2 separate regions of the Homo sapiens genome follow, and region 2 is linked to region 1. The links come from fine-mapping of genetic effects on gene expression. A gene starts in region 1. The other region holds a variant in brackets. All regions are shown on one strand. Distances are between the middles of the regions. Region 1 holds the start of RABGAP1 (RAB GTPase activating protein 1). Region 2 overlaps STRBP (spermatid perinuclear RNA binding protein).

The links. PIP is the estimated chance that this variant, and not a neighbour inherited with it, causes the effect.
Region 2: its variant is the best candidate, but not a certain one, in a credible set for the expression of RABGAP1 in lung (TOPMed, PIP 0.55).

What each region holds. Positions count from the first base shown.
Region 1 is chr9:122,939,804-122,942,718 of GRCh38, forward strand. It overlaps RABGAP1 (RAB GTPase activating protein 1), which reads left to right and starts at 1,217. Exons shown (of 26, transcript NM_012197.4): 1 at 1,217-1,290. It overlaps LOC105379839 (a long non-coding RNA gene), which reads right to left and starts at 1,445. Exons shown (of 2, transcript XR_001746924.3): 1 at 1,336-1,445; 2 at 773-1,132. RefSeq lists enhancers at 757-826, 1,016-1,740 and silencers at 987-1,146, 1,157-1,486.
Region 2 is chr9:123,192,539-123,195,453 of GRCh38, forward strand. All of the region lies in intron 2 of STRBP (spermatid perinuclear RNA binding protein), which reads right to left. Among named protein-coding and RNA genes, the nearest start is that of STRBP, 75 kb to the right of the region's middle. The variant T/A (reference allele first, on the strand shown) is at 1,424.

The DNA.
Region 1 (2,915 bases):
CATCTATTGTATTAGACAAATCACAGAGGGATTGCAACAGAACACAGATTTTTCTCACTGTTTTTTCTCTGGTTGATCGGGATGCATTATCCACCAGAAAACACTGTAGACGACTCACTCACCAGGAAAAGAGCATATGCCAGTTGGAATAAATAAAGGGGAAGAGTAAGGAAGAGGCTGTAGAATTATTTTATAAATTATCAAGTCTTATGAGCCAGGTGCAGTGGTGCATGCCTATGTACAGTCCCAGCTACTCAGGAGGCTGAGGTGGTAGGATAGCTTGAGCCCAGGAGTTCGAGGGTGGAGTGTGATATGATCGTCTGTGAATAGCCACAGCACTGCATCCTGGACAAGATAGGGTCTCTTTAAAAATAAGACTTAACTAGCACTTTAATAATCATTGTTTTTGTTCCCAACTGCATTGTACATTCATTGAGGACAGGGACTTTAAACTTCATTATATTGCTGTTGCTGTGTTTCACCTTTGAATGATTTTTAAATAAAAATCTCATCTTTGAGTCACAATCTGATGTAACCTTGTCCATTTCTGTCCTCTTGTGTGCCTTAAATGCCTTTAGGCAGCTGTGTTGTACCAGTGGTTTTAGGACTTGGCAGTCGGAAGTTTTGACTTCTAGACTGGATTCTGTAACTAAAGCTAAATTACTTTATAAAAGGAGAAAAATGGTACCATTCTGACGGGTTTGTGGTGAAGCTGAAATGAGATAGCCACATAAAGAACCATCACAATCCCTGACACACCGTGCGCCCTCAGTAAATGCCAGGTGAATTTTATTACACTGTGAAGTACTGATTTTCAAACAGGACTTGCACATGAAAGGTGAGCAGGGGGATTCCTTGCTCAAGCACCAGTACTCTGGGGTTGTACCCTTTGTTAGGCTCAACAGGTACTACCCAGTCCGCTTCCATCGTCCCCAGTCCCGGCTGCAGTCACGTAGTTGGCTGTCCAACTCCAAATACACAAGACAGCCCAGGTCCAGCTCACAGCCAGTGCACTTCGCGCAGGCGCACAGTCCTGAGGCGGGCTGAAAGCCCAGGTGGGGCTCGGAGAAGAGGAAGCTCCGCCTCGCTTCCCGGTATTGGGCCAATAGGGTCGCTCGTCATGGTCGCAGACCTATGAGACGGGGCAGGGGGCGGGGCGGAGGGCGGAAGAAGTCGCTCTCACGTGAGTAAAGGGGTGGGGGGGCGGGGACAGGGCGGTTTGGGAGGCCCAGGCGGCGGAGCCTCCGGGACGGCGAGCGGCGGGCGGCGGAGGAGGAGACGGCAGGTCGGGTAGGGCCGTGTTTCCCCTCCTCCTCCTCCCACCCTCCTACCTACCAACCCCAGGGGTATTTTCCGACGGCCCCTGCGGGGAGCCAAGCTGTCTTCTCATCCCGCGGGGTCGGGCCAGTGGAGCTGCTCTCAGCTCCCTCGACGGGCCGAGTTCTGAGGGGAGCCGTGATTGGGGGGAGGGGGAACTGCGACGGAGGGGAGAGGGCGCATGCGCAGGCTGGGCCGCTCTGGGAGCCCCTGCCCAAACCGGTTCCCCCTGTCTGTGTGGGTGCCGGTCTTCTGAGTCTTGCGTTTTTGGCCCTCCCTCTGGTCCCCCAGCAAAGCCGGTTTGTGTCTTGACTTTAATGTTTTATGCTTGGTCCTATTTGGGAATCCAGCCGCTCCCCCCCGCCTCAGTTTCTCCCCATTGCTCACTAGGCCTGTATCTGTGACTTAAGCTAGCCTGGGCCTCAGGCTGTCCTGGGCTGCGCCTAAATTTCAAAGACTTGCTAGTTTTCACTGTCGCTTTGCCATCTCAGGTTGGTCTTTCAGTCTCATTTCCCCGTCTGCAATTAAAGCGTTCTTGGCATCCCAGTCTTCTCATCTCCTTGAAGCAGCTACCCCAGTACCTCATCGCTGTGTCTTTTGATTATCCGCACCCTTAGGGTTTTACGTGTTGAGCCAAAGGATAACCTCAAGACTTCCAGGAGTTCGCTGTCCATTGCCTGGTAGTACTTTGGTCTCTGCTCTTCTGCATCCAGACTGTTTATCATCTGCTCCTGCGTTTCACGCATCTGCATACCTTTGGTTACTCGAGAATTCTTTTTTGGAAACAAATGTCCTAGGAGACCGTGTTAAGTGATCATGCTGCTAGTGTTCCCGCTACTAGTGCTCCGTTAGTTTTAAATCATGTTCCAACTTGAATTTGAGGTCTTTTGACTTTCGTTGGCTTTTTGTCAGGGAAAAAAACCTGTTAGGGACAGGGTTTCACAATTCCTTTTATATTTCCATTCACATGTATTTACAAACGTGTGCCTGGAGTAGTAAGTACACAATAAGTGAGTTTCCAGCTGTTTTTGTTTCGGAAACAAAAAACAAAACAAAACAAAACAAAAAAACAACGGAAGGTGAATGGAATTGTGTTTGTAACATTAAACTGATGTTTGAAAAGTAGTTGGGAAAAAAAGCTTAGGTACTAAGGAGGGTTCATCCAACTTTTTTTTAAACGAAGGACGTGTTGCCTTAGTTCAAGTTTGTATAAGGTGCTATTTAATATGTATTGAAGACTTAACTAGAGCTTACTTATGAAAACTGAAAATAGGGGCCGGGTGCGTTCACGCCTGTGATCCAGCATTTTAGGAGGTTGAGGCGGGTGGATCACAAGGTCAGGAGTTCGAGACCAGCCTGTCCAATATGGTGAAACCAGGTCTCTACTGAAAATACAAAAATTAGACGGGCGTAGTGGCAGGCGCCTGTAGTCCCAGCTAATCGGGAGGCTGAGGCAACAGAATCGCTTGAACCCGGGAGGCAGAGGTTGCAGTGGGCCGATATTGTGCCATTGCACTCCAGTCTGAGCAACAGAGCGAGACTCCGTCTCAAAAAAAAAAAAAAAAAAACACAAAAAAACAAAATAGGGAAGAGAAGTC
Region 2 (2,915 bases), 250 kb after region 1:
TGAGCTCAGAAGTTCATGCCTAGCCTAGCCAACATACAGAGACCCCCATCTCAATTTTTAAAAAGGGAAAGGGGGATAGTGCATAGGAACAGGAATCTTGTTTTAATCCTTGTTTTACTACTACAGATATCTAATAATTCAAGGATACTTACATATTTGGAAGTCTTGTATACCACTGTGTAAAGTTGTTTTACTATGTTTTACCATTTACGGGGATTTATCCTCTCCTATACTATTCCCATTTCAGCCCATCATTGAGGAAAATTTTACCTTGAGAACATCAGACTCCTCTTCAAAACCTTCAATAACCACTAATTACCTAAGCAACTGGCACTAAACTCAAATATTCAGTGGCATCCAAGGTCCTATCGTCATTCTTGTCATTTCTCTCACCACCACAGCTCCAGTCAACACGGGAATAATGACTCTATGCCAGAACACCTTGCAATGTGCTACCGCTAAGCTTGAGTTAAACGATTCCCTTACCTGGACTGCAGCCACTACGCCATCATGATTTGTCATTGTTCTATTCATCAAATGCCCATCTCAAATCTACCCCTCCATGAAGCCTTACCTAATACTTCAGTTTATATAATTTCTTCCTCCTTTGAGCCATCCAGCACTTTTTCAGCTTCCTTTATATTTCTATTACTCAGTTTTAATGATATGATTTACTATTATCTCCACAGCACCTAGTACATCGCCCTGCACTCAGCAGAGGCTCAATAGAATTTGAATTCAACCCTAAATTTATCCTTCCTTAGAGTGCCATAACCACAGAATCTAAGGAGGTTCCATCCAAAAGGTCACCATCTCTTCCCATTATTTCCATGGCAGTCATCACCACAGTGACTAACAGGGAATTTCTGACTCGTCCTCCATAAGCACAAATTCCATTACTTATTTGACTTCTCCATCTTGGATTAATCCCCCAAACCCTATCCCATTCCTTCAGGACTTTAGTGCTGTACTTAGCTCAGTGACACACTCAACTTTACTTCTGGCATAAATATTAGAATTTTAATAACCGCAGAGATGACCCTTCTAAAATTCAGGCTTCTCCAGTCCTTGTATTCCTTTCCTCCAATGTTCTCATCTTCTTTCCTATTTTAGACAAACACGCCCCACCGGGACCTACAATCGCTAATGCTACCACTTTTCACAGTCCCTCATCCTTTTCATGCCCTCATTTCTGTCCTTATCCAACCGAAATTACGTGATCCATCATTTATCATTCATACCAGCAACTGCTTCTCTTTCCTTCTCCTAGCAAAACTCTAACCCTGTTAAATCCAAGCCTCTTGGCCACACCACATCATTAACCATGTACCATTAAATATAACTAAGAAAAAAAAGTATCACATAATCATGCTAATTAGTCTTTTTCATGACCATTAGCCTCAAAAGGCCCAATAATCAATAG[T/A]TCTAAAGGGATGTGAAAATGTGAAGTCAAGTTTTTTTAGTTGTAAGAATGACTAGGTAGGTAATCCTGGCATTTGGGACCCTGGAATGCAAAATATCCTGCCGTGTCCAAGATCTGTCCCACCTAAAATGCAAGTAGGAGCCTCAATGAAAAAGTTAAATGTTCATTCACTTCCTCACTCTCCTAATGATTTTCTCACACTTCTCTTGTCTCTTCAAACATCTATACTCTTACCTCTTCATATTCAACAGGTCACCCTGCTTCCTACTTCATGCAAATTGCCAACCTTGCTGCATCATTAACCATATATTCTTCCTTCCTGTTATTATAAATGAACTGTCCCCATTCCTATCTAATGCAAATTCCTGAACTCAAACTCTACTGGATCCCACCTCCTTTTGCCTACTTGGGATGTCACTCAGTAATCATCCCCTCTTCTCTCTTTCCTCTCCTGTATCATCCATTTTACCCATTCTACTGAGTCATTTCTATCAGCATTCCCACATGTTGTAATAGCACCCATCAATAAAAATAAAAAGGGAAAAAACATTAAAAACCATCCTTGACCTCTTGCTTTGCTACAGCTACTAGCCCAATTCTCTGCTCTCATTCTAGAGCATAACTGAGTTTACACTTTGGGTTTTTATTTCCTCTCCTTCCATTCTCTCTTAAAACCATCCCAATCAGCCTCTCATCCCAATGCTCCATCAAAACAGCTCTTGTCAAGGTCCCCTAGGATTTCCATGGTATTTAATGCTGTGAATAATTCTCAGTCCTCCTCTTAGTTGACTTCTCAGCAACAGTTGACACAGTTGACTGTTCCCTACACTTTACTCCCCTTGGCTTCCATCTAAGACACCACTCTCTTAGTTCTCCTCCTACTTTATAAATTACTCCCTTGTATCCTTTTCTTCTTTATCTCCACAACCTCTAAACGCTGAAGTGCCTCAAGACTCAGCCCTCAGACTTCATCTCTTCTCTATCTTACCTTCAACATTCCCTTGGCAATGTTATCTAGGTTTGAGACTTTAAATACCATCTATATACTGAGGATCTCCCAAATTCATATGGACCTGAGTTCCAAATTCACATTCAAATAAATAATCAACACATCCACTTGGATGTTTAATAAGCATCTTAAACCTAATGCATCAAAAACAAAAAACAAAACAAAACAAAACAAAAAACCACACAAGTTTGCTCCTCCTGGTCTTCCCTCCCTCAAGAGAAGGCAACTACTTCATCCCTTTAATTGTTCATGCCAAAAACTTGAAAGTCATCCCTGACTCCTTTCTTCCTCCCACATCTCACATCTGATCCATCATTAAATCCTGTTACCTATACCTTACAACACTATCTAAAATCTGACTATTGGGAAGTCCTAGCTAAAATAATCAGACAAGAGAATGAAATAAGGAGCATTCAAATTGGAAAGAAGCCAAATTATCCTTATTTGCAGATAATATGATCTCATATTTGCAAAAACCTGAAA